Regions from separate parts of the Homo sapiens genome. Here region 2 is linked to region 1. Evidence: fine-mapped expression QTL. Tissue or cell type: testis. Region 1 holds a variant in brackets; the other region holds the start of a gene. All regions are shown on one strand. Distances are between the middles of the regions.

What was found. PIP is the estimated chance that this variant, and not a neighbour inherited with it, causes the effect.
Region 2: it holds the start of GFRA2, and the variant in region 1 is fine-mapped to the expression of GFRA2 in testis (GTEx, PIP 0.97). The same link has a PIP of 0.9 or more in thyroid and whole blood.

The regions. Positions count from the first base shown.
Region 1 is chr8:21,690,922-21,696,101 of GRCh38, forward strand. GFRA2 (GDNF family receptor alpha 2) reads right to left here. Exons shown (of 9, transcript NM_001495.5): 8 at 3,543-3,596; 9 at 1-2,479. The coding sequence ends at 2,357. Among named protein-coding and RNA genes, the nearest start is that of GFRA2, 95 kb to the right of the region's middle. RefSeq lists an enhancer at 1,898-2,398. The variant A/C (reference allele first, on the strand shown) is at 2,335.
Region 2 is chr8:21,786,931-21,792,049 of GRCh38, forward strand. It overlaps GFRA2 (GDNF family receptor alpha 2), which reads right to left and starts at 1,945. Exons shown (of 9, transcript NM_001495.5): 1 at 1,190-1,945. The coding sequence starts at 1,229.

The DNA of each region.
Region 1 (5,180 bases):
CACGGATTCCTAAGTGGATGCCATGACCACGTCTACCCGCAATGGCTGGACAGAGACCTGGCTGGCTCACTGTACCCCTTCCATGCAGAGGCTGGAAGGCAATACACCACAGTGATAAACGCTGTGAACGGATGCTGCTCACACATATACAACCAGAAGCAAAAGCCATTGAGGGGACCTGCGATTGGGAGATGGGAAAACTGCATCCTATTGTCCAGTTGAAATGGGATGGGCTCACATGCAGCCCTGAAGGCCAGGCTGACAGTAGAAACATCTTCTCGCCTACCAGTCTTCCATTCTCCCTCCTGCCATGGGTATATATTCACACGTGCACGTGAACATGTGCGAGCCTGCACACGACCGCACACACATGTACACATGCTCACATACATGGACACACACACACTTGGCCAGCAGGCATTCTCCTGGTCCTCTCTGGGGAGAATCTCTCTTGGAGACTATGGCAGGCCTAGTGTCCAAGTGGGGCCTGGGTAGCAAATGGAGAAACAGGAAAGGAAGGAATAGAGGGAGACCCAAAAAATACTTATGCTTTCAGACCATGACCCCAGAACATGCACAGTCATGTCCTTCTTCTCTGGTGGGACCCAAAAGGCCAGGTCACTGCACTCACAATCACACATCTCAAATAAGCCAGGAGTCCCAGAGGGACATACCACTTTGCTCTATGTAAGACTAACAGGGCCACCCAGACAGCCTGACAATAAAACATTCCCAACGTGTGATGCCAAGCTGTGGCTCCCCACCACGTCCACGTCCACTGCATTCTCTTCCAGCCTGGGAGCCACAGGCATTTGCGCCAACTGGAGAAGTGAGCAAAGAGGGAACAGAACAGCCCACCAGGCTCAGCACAGCGTGGACCCTCAGATCCCGCCCCCAGTGTCAAACCAGCTCCTAAGAGAGCTCCATCTACACACAATGTGGACACATGGGTGAGACACATGGATGCACACACATGCACACAGGCACACACACGGACACACATTTCCCCAGCCCACTGGGAGCTCCACTTACGCAGGTAACACTGGACCAAGAACAAAATGGGGGCAAAACCCCACGGGACCGAGGCAGAGGCAGCTTGCTTCCTAGCACGTTTATTGGAGCCTTGGTTAAGCTTGGATGCGGATCAGGAGCCCCCACCAGAGCCCAGCCAGGCTGACTGGGGCAGGGCACTGCGGGGCCAATGTCCTTTTTCCCCATTATAGACAACAGTATTAAAAAAAATAAACTTTACAATAATACATTTTCGCTCATCTGTTGGGGTATTATTTCCATAGTTTTGTTGCTTAAAAAAAGGAAAGAAAGGGGAAACCACACAATATATGTATATGGATGTGTATATACATATATGTTAGGAGAGGAGCCCCGGTATGTACATACAGTTGACGTACGTCTAGGAAATGAGGAAAGAGAAAGGGGAAAGGAGGAGGAGGGAGAAGACAGCAGGAAAGCTTGAGGGCCCACGGTGCTGCAGACACACACCCGGCTGTGGTCTCTCCCCTCCCTCTCCCCAAAGGGAGGCCTGCCAAAGGACCCACGAGAAAGCAAAGAAGCCAACAAAGGACCGTTTCTCTCTGACTTCAAAATTTCTGCCACCGAGAAAGAAGCTGGTGCCCAAGTTTTAATGCCTCGCCACAAGGGCTCTCCCAGGCAGGCTGAGCTCTCAAGCCCTCCTGGAGCTGGCCCCCAGCCCCAACACTCCGTGCTACAGTCAGGGGGAGCCCAGCACGGTGCGAACCCCCTCCACCGCCATCCGTGGGGAAGTTCCCACACCAGCTGCAGACCCACCAGCCCCACCCGAGGGCAGAGAGGGAGGGCAAAACCATCTCCATCCTTGAAGCCAAAGGGCTGAAGGTGGACCCTCATGGCCAGCCCCGCTGCCCCGCTGACCGATGCCCTCTGCCAGCCCCCAGCGGGTCCCCAGAGTGGGCAGCCTGGGGAAGCAGCTGTGTTGTCCTGCCCCCAGCCAGCCTCAGGCACAGCCCAGAGTCCCTTCCGCTGCAGGCTCTTGTCCGGTCTCTGCTTCAGAAGGGTCCAGAGAGAAAAACACCAGGAGAAAGTGAAGGGCATTTCTAGAGCCTCGTGCCCTCCCCGGCACCAGAGTTTCCCCTGCCAGGGGACCCCTGGGCCAGCTCTCAGGCTGCCTGCCTGCTTGTCTGTTTGGTTTACAAAAACTTCTCCAGAGAAGAAACCTGGGAGGAGACAGGTTCAGCGACAAGGTGGGAAAAACAATTTTTTTTTTGCAAGGTGTGTGTGTGTCTGTGTGTGTTTCCATTTCGTCAGGCGGCTGTTCTTGTCTGCGTAGCTTTCAAAAAT[A/C]TTCTGACTCGGTTCCCACAGCCTACAAGGCCAGTTTCAGCATCAGGACAGACAGCACGGTCAAGGCAGCCGACGGTCTGGCTCTGCTGGGGCCTGAGTTAGGTTTGATCACCTTGTTACTCCCTGGGATGATATTTGTCGTGAGCTGAGTCCGCAGCAGGAGAAGAATCAGGAACAAAGAGAATGAAAACAAAGAAAACAGTCAGGAGGCCTGGGACCCGGCAGAGAAACGGACTCAGGAACTGGACACCTCAAGCCCCTGTCCTCTCTTCCACCCACAGGGACCCTCCTTTGCACTCTGAAGGGAGCGCTGACTCTCCCGGAGCTGGCCCAGGCAGGAGCAGAAGGGAATGCTCTGTCCCTTCTGGTCACAAGCCCTGGGGTTTGGAGAGGAGGGCAGTGGTCACCAGGATAACAGGCTACTCCTCCCTGCATCAGGGCTGAGGACCTGCGTCCCAGTGAGGAGGCAGATGGTATAAAGAGCTGAAGAAGGAGGAGAGAAGAAGAAGGAGAGGAGAGAGGAAGGAGAGGGGAAGGAGAGAGGAAGGGAAGGGGAGGGGAGGGGAGACAAGGGAGCCCACATTCGCCCTGTTTCTCAATTTCTTCCAATCCCCACTCCTCCATGAAGCCCTCCCTGAACATCTTTGTCTGAGTTTCTCTTTCTTCTGTGAGGTCTCACACTGCCTTTTCTTCTCATCTAAGTTACTGTCTTGGGTCTATAAGTCATATATATATATACGTCATATACATGAGATATATATATTTATATATACGTCATATATATGAGATATATATATATTTATATATATATTTATTTATTTTTATATATATATATATTTCCTATAGTGGGGGTTTCTTCAAGGGAAGAACTGTGTCTGTTTCCACTTCTGTGCCTCCTAAATATCACAGCAACAGTGCCGAGCAGGTGGTCGACACAACTGTCTTAAGAGAGTAAGGAAGGCATGGGAGGGCCTCTGCTCAGAGCAGCCATTTGTCTCTCCCCAAGGAGAGAGCCAGGGGCCCTGGATGCAGCCTTCGCACTCCCCCACCCCACCCCAGCAGAGTAAGTGCCCACCCTGGTCCAGAAGCTCAGCTGGCCCAGCCCATGCGATGAGATTTGAGGGCGCTGGATCTGAGGCTCGCCGGGGAAATGCCGCCCCCCACCGGCCCAGCCTTCTGCACCCATCCCCACTCTGCCCCCAACTCACCTCTGTGAAGCACATGCTTAACTCTTTGGAGTTGTTGGCCTTCAGCCCCTGCTCCTGCGAGAGAGAAGGTGCCAGTCAGGACGAGTCACCAGGCTGTTCCTGGCTGGGCTTTGTCCAGAGACTTAGATGAGGCCCCGCCATGCACTGTTGGCTCCGCTAAGCACAGCCAGCGCACACGGTGAAGAGGGTAGCTCAATTCCACCCAGCACAAAAGGCTTCTGCCCTTCTCTGACACCCTCAGCAATTAGGACCCGACTCCTCTGGCTCCTGGAGAACAGAGTTCTAACTCTGCTCCCAACTAGCGGCATTATATAGTCATCAGCCATTCGCATGTCTGTCCATATACTCAGCGCAACTCTTGGGCAGGGACCATGTCTTCTTTTCCTCACACTGAGCAGTGTCTGGTTCATAACAACAACTCAACAAATGTTTCACTAGATGCCTGCATCCATGAATGAATGAATGAATGTCACAGATCATAAACAGCCTCCAAGAGCCAACTCCTGTTAATTTGCCATGGCTGATGGAGGGCTCTATATAAAAAGATCATGAGCATTCATCTGGGCTTGAGGGGAAGAGAGGCATGATTGATTAGTGATGTCTGCCACTGGTCCATTAGGTGGATATCTGGCAACTGCACCAGCCCATTTCTGTCCTACACGGATGTGCACACCTGGGAACACTGTGGGCAAGGTGAGGGACGAGAAGGGCTGCCTTGGTAATGATTCCAAGATTGTCTACCCTGGTGTGGCCACCTGGATGCAGGGCCAGAGGGCGCACATGATGAACGGCCCTCTGTTATCATCACTGTAATGGAGATCCATGGGAACCAGCTGGGGATGCAGCGCTTCCATCCAGGATTCAAATGGCTTGTTCCCAGGGCACTTCCAGGGAAGTTCTGGCCACCAAAAGCAACTGGGAAGCCCAAGAAATTATGCCGCAATCACTGCCCTCGGCCAGAAGTATCAATAACCCCTTGGACATCACAGGCAATCTACCACCCAGGGCATCTGGTCAGCTAAACAAGACCCCAGCTGTCACATGGAGACGCTGGCCAAGAGTAGAGTCACTGCCAATGGTGGAGATAGGACCACGGTGATGATTAGCACAGCGAGAATGGAACCAGGAGTGTCCCCAGGTGCCAAGGTGATGCCCAGCCAACTCCCCAGCTGTTGCCCTCTGCAGAAGGGCACGTGCTCGACAACTCTTCCAGACCCAAGGCCTGGACTCCACTCCCCAGGACTTGGTGCTGTTCCAGCTAAGACTGTGAGGCCACGGGGAAGGGTGTCAGGGAAAAAGAACACGCCCACCCCCTCAGAGGCTGTGCTGTCATAATGGCCTCGCATCTGTCCTCCCGAGTCCCTTGGCCAATCCTTGCTCAGTCACCTCAGTCCCTACTTGTGACATCCTATGGCTTGTTGGAGTCTGTGCCTGTGGCCTGACACCTACGGACACCCAGCGTCACTTCCTACTCTCATTGTTTCAGGTGTGGCAGGCCAGTCCCCGCCCTTTCTGGGAGTCCATGTCTTATCCCTACATCCCTACCCCCAACAGAGCTCACTAAACCATTGGGAGCCCTCTCCTTTGTCCCCTCCCCATCTCCTGTGTCCCCTCCCCCCTCTCTCCCCTCCCCCTCCT
Region 2 (5,119 bases), 96 kb after region 1:
AGCAAGCCAAGGTGGTAGAACTACACCCTCACTGAAGCAGACGTGTGCTCCTTACAAACACACTCACACACACACACACATACACAGTAGTTACCCGGCTCCCTCTATGGGAGCGTCTACTCCCTGGCAGCAGCCCTGCCTGGGACTCCCGGTGGTGCACAGCCTTGCAAACAACCGCCTTTCCTCACCTCCCTCCGGAGATTGCCATTTCCCAAGCAGCTGCGATTTCACCTAGCTTTAAAGGGAGAGAGGAGCTGGGAATTCTGTGTGGAAAAGAAACTGCGTGGGGCTCAGTGGCGCCAGGCAGCCTCTCCTCCCTGTCTTGGAGGCGGCGGGGGGGGCAGTGGGGGGGGTTTGCAGAAGGAGCAGTGGTCTTTGTTCAGACCCGTTTTTCCTCCCTCGCCTCCCACCCTCTTCAACGGAGAAAGCAAACTTTGGCCTCCCTCCCGCCTCTTCCCACCAGCCACGGGGGTCCGCGGCCCCCAGAGGTGGAGGAGGGAAGGCCGGGAACGGCTGCTCACAACCCTCCGCTCCCGCCCACCCATCTGGCTCGGGGCTCGGTGGGGAGAAACTTGAAAAGTGTTCCGGGGAGTGGAGCCGCCGGTTAGGGGCTCAGGGCGTGGGGACGCGGGCTCCGTTTGCCAGGCGCGGCTGGCAGGTGGGGAGTGACTGCCAGCGCTCCCCGCGCGATGTCCAAGCGGGAGCCGCCGGAGAAACCCGCGCCCTCCACCACGACCGACTCGGGGAGCAGACCAGGAAAGGCGGACCCCGCAGGACTGTTCTCTCCCCGCCTAGGAGCCTCTCTCTCCCTCCCTTCTTGCAGATCAAGAGTTGGATATTTTTTTTTCTTAAGTTGCCGCAATTCGAACCCATTATTTCGGGGGAGATGCGCGCTATACTGGCGTGTGAGCGAGCGCGGGTGTGTGTGTGCGTGCACAGTGTCTGCGGGGCTGGTTCGGATGTTGAGTCTCCCTCCCGATCCCCCTGCGTCGCCAGCCAGCCGCGGCTCCGGTCCCTCGTCCGCGTCCCTGCCGCCCGGCCCCGCTCGGTTCGCCAGCACCGGGCCCGGCTAGCTCCGCGGCGCGCTCTCCCCGCCGACCTCCCGCCAGCCCCCCACCGGCGCTCCGCTCGCCCCCCGCCTCCCCGGCTTCTCGCCTCCCCCTCGAGCTCGCCGCCCGCAGGTACTCACCTAGAAAGAAGAAGAGGCAGAAGACGTTTGCCAAGATCATGTTAAATAAATCCCACCGTTTTTTTGTCTTTCTCCCTTGGGTAAAAAAAAATAATAGTAGTAACAACAACAATAATAATAGGCAAGCAGTGGTAATCAGCCCCAAATCCAATGCGGAGATCCCAGCTAGTCCACCCGATGAAGATCCCGAGTCCTGCGATTCTCGCCTCTGGCTGGAGGGGGTGGGGTGAGAGGCGGGCGATGGGCTGCTGCCTCTCGACGCCCCCCTTGCCCGCTACAATCAAATATACGCGTATCTGTGTATCGGCTTTCTAAGCCAACAGCCCAGTCCTGGGGTCAGCCCTCCCCTCCAATCGTCCGGGAAGGCGTGAGTCCCCGCGGGTCCAATTCCCCTGCGCTTCCCAGGAGGGGCCTGGGGAGGTGGGGAGAGAGGCGATTTGCGAGTGAAGGGCTGGAAGGAAGCGGCGAGGGAGGGGGTCGGAATAAAATGCAAATAGAAAAGAAATCCACAGACGGGTGTCAGCGCCCAAGAACAATCCAGTCGGAGCTTCGAGGACGAGAGACTGGAGTCGCTTCTTTCGCACCAAGACGAAGACAAGATTCAAAAAAATCTTCTCCCGCTAACCCTTGCTCGGCTCACTTTTTTCTAATGGAATTCCAGTGACCGTGTGTCTCTGCGTGCGTGTGTCTTTCTCTCTCCTCTCTCTCTCTCTCCTCTCCCTCGCTCGCTCTTTGCTCTCGCTCTCTCCAGCTCTCCCTCGCTCTCCTCTCTCCCTCCCCCTTCTCCCACTCTCCCTGCTCCTCCCTCCGCCCGCCCCCTTCTCCCTTCGCGGCTCCCTCGCCCGGGCTCTCGCGCCAGCGCCCCTCTCCTCCGCCCCGGGCTCGGCGCTCGGGCTCCCAGGCGGCTGGCGGCGCGGGGCGCGGGGCGCGGGAGCGCGGCGGAGCTACGATGCTCTGCAGCGGCGGCGGCGACAAGGCGAAGGCGGTGGCGGTGGCGGTGGCGGCGGCGGCGGCGCCGGGGATCGCGGGCCGAGAGGAGAGCCCAGCCGCCGGCTCCCTCGGCTCAATCGCCCGCCCTTCCTGGGACTGACCTGCTGCCTTGGCCGGAAACTGACTGGCTCCCCCGGCTACGGCTCGGGCTCGAACCCACTCAAGCGTCGGCACCCTCCTCCTCCTCCCCCCGCAGCTCTCCCCACCCTGGGGACCGGCTGCGCCCTCCAACCCCCACTGCCCCTGCCCCCGCCCCCTGCGCCGCTGGGTCTGGGAAGCCTGGGGAGCTGAGCTGAGGCTGGAGGGCGCGGAGTCCGTGGGGCCCGAGCCATCCGGGGGCTCGGGGGGCAGGGCGTTAGAAAAACCCCAGCCGGTGGCCCGGGTCTGAGGGGGGCTCCACCCTCCGTGGGCTAAGGCGTCCCTGCGCCCAGGAGCCGAGGCCGACAAAGCGTCTCCCCGATGGTGCCAGGGAAAGGAATTATCCCCTTCGGCGCCGGCCCCGCGCGCCCCCGAACCCAACGCATCCTGCCGGCCCCGGCCTAGCCCCGCGCGCACATACACGTGTGCTCTCCGCGCGGACCTCGGGAACTTTGCCCTCACGCCCGCGGCGCGCTTGCCTCCCGCCCGCCCCGGCCTCCACCCCTTCGAGATGCCCCTTCCCCAGCCGGTCTCCCCTCCCCCCGGCTCGGGAAGAAGCCTGCTGGGCCAGGGCGCCCTGACCACCTCCTCGGAGGCCGGCAAACCTGCCTGAACCGCCCCAGAGGAATCGGGCAGGGGCTCGCACCCCACCCCGGCAGGAGGGCCCCGAGACCGACCCGGGCCGGGGCTCCGCAGCCGGCTGGGCTCCGAGGAGCTCGTCCCGAGGCAGCTCCCGGCTCCCTAGGCTCCGGGGTTGGGGGGTTCCTCCTCCCCTAGCCGGGAAGGGGGCGATTGATCCATCTGTCGGTGGGCCGGGCTCACCGGCGTGTTTTAGTCGCAGAATTTACAATAAACGCCCAGAAGGACCTAAAAGGAAGCGTCTGGCTGGGAAAGGGCTGGAGGAGAGGTGCGGCTGCGGTCACGTTCCGGCGAGAGCGGGAGAGGCGCGGGGTCGCGGTCGCGCGAGGGCTCACACCCACGCAGCCCGGCATCCCCCGGCCCTCGCGCCACGTTCCTCGCACTCAGCTCGGCGCGCACACACGGTGTCCTGGGGTGGGGTACACGCAGCGCCTCAGAAACTTTTCGTGCTGCCCAAAACAATCTGGGCTGCACGTAACATGAATTTGATAGTACCGTTTAAGATGCATTCTTAAATAACAAGACTCTGGAATCCAGTAAATGCTAGAAATCGACTTGGACGAGAAGGGAGGGGTCACTAACAAAACCAGCAGCCTTAGCTATTGGGAAAGCTAGAGGGAGCAACTTCCATCTTGAGGATTTAGGCGGGAAGGCGGCTGCTCCCGGCCTTGGAAGCACAGAGAGCGAGTCTCCTGTGAACGCCTCTTTCCTGTGGTCCGTCCTGGGGCATCGACCTTCCTCCCTCCATCTTCTCCCCCAGCCATCCAGTTGTGCCTGCTTCGAGCCTAGGCCCTAGCTGGGTAGTGACGAGTCTGGGACAGAGGGCTTAGGGATTGGAGTTGGGGAAAGCCCCCTTCAGGCCTGCCCTCCCTGTCATTCCTCCAAGCCTCTCATGTTCTAGGAAGTGACTTCGCATCTGACAAGGTCTCTTGGCTTTTTTTCCAAAAATTGGGGAGCATAAGGAACCGGCTTTGGATAAGTGTAGGTTAAAAGATAAAACTTGACAGGAATTACACTGCCAGGCAGGCTTGGCCTGGAGGCCCGAGGCTGGGAGCCTGGCCTAAATGAATGTCCCCCCTCTCATCTCCTCGACTTCCAGGGTCTTCTGGTTGTCCAAATACTCCCCACCACCACCCATTTCGGAATCTCACGCAGGCCTTCCCCCTTCCAAGGACCCTGCTCCAAACTCCAGAATTTCTGCTCAGCATATCCCTCTCCCCTTCCCCACAAAAAAGAATTTCACTTTCTTTTAACTTCATTTGAGCATAATGAGAGAAATTCTCTGAATCATATATGTAGTTCTCCCCTCCCACCTATCCAGAAAATGGGGCTGAGAAAGCAGCAATGAAGCCCTGGGGATGGTTCTCACTGAGCTCCCACGGGAGTAGGAAAGAGGATTCCGGTAGCAGGAGGTAAGTGGCCCTTCTGCGACCCAAGACCACCCAGCCATCCCAAGAACAGTAGAGAACACCAATCAGTCACCACCAGCATTCAGCTTGTGTGACTGCAGGGCACTCTGACCTTGGACCCTCTCTTACCTACTGCCTATACAGACGTATCCCATGACACCCCACCCTCTGCCCACCCCAACACTCAACCCAAACTGCTCTTAAAAATGGCATCATCCCTTATTTCCTGAGCATCTGCCATGAGGAAGACCCCCTGCCTTGTGCCGGGATCTACAGAGGAAACACAGTTGAACATGTACTATAACACCTTATAGATAAGAGGACTTCTGAACCTCAGTCATCTCATCTATAAAATGGGGATTAAAAAAGATAAACCAACGTTGTAGAAATTACATAAGATACTACACAAAGCGGCTAGTACAATGCCTGGCCCATATAAAGTTGTTTACTGCTTTGCTCTGGGTTCTAGAAGAAGAATTAGGGACCTATGACAAGGCAATAAAACCTAAGGGGCAAATGAGAAGCAGAAACAAAAAGCTACAGGGGTTCAAGGGCAACAGAGACTATTAAGCAGCTGTCGTAAGAGGTAGTCATAGGAAAATGTGAAGTCTCTAGCAGGTAGGAGGCAAGCCCTAGGCTCACCAACAGACTTCCACACATTCCGTAGTGCCTGAGTCCTTTTACAGCCTTCCTGGCTCATTCCAGTGCTCCTGAGTTCACCAGCAGCTGAGCCTCCTGCCCACAGCCCCTCCCC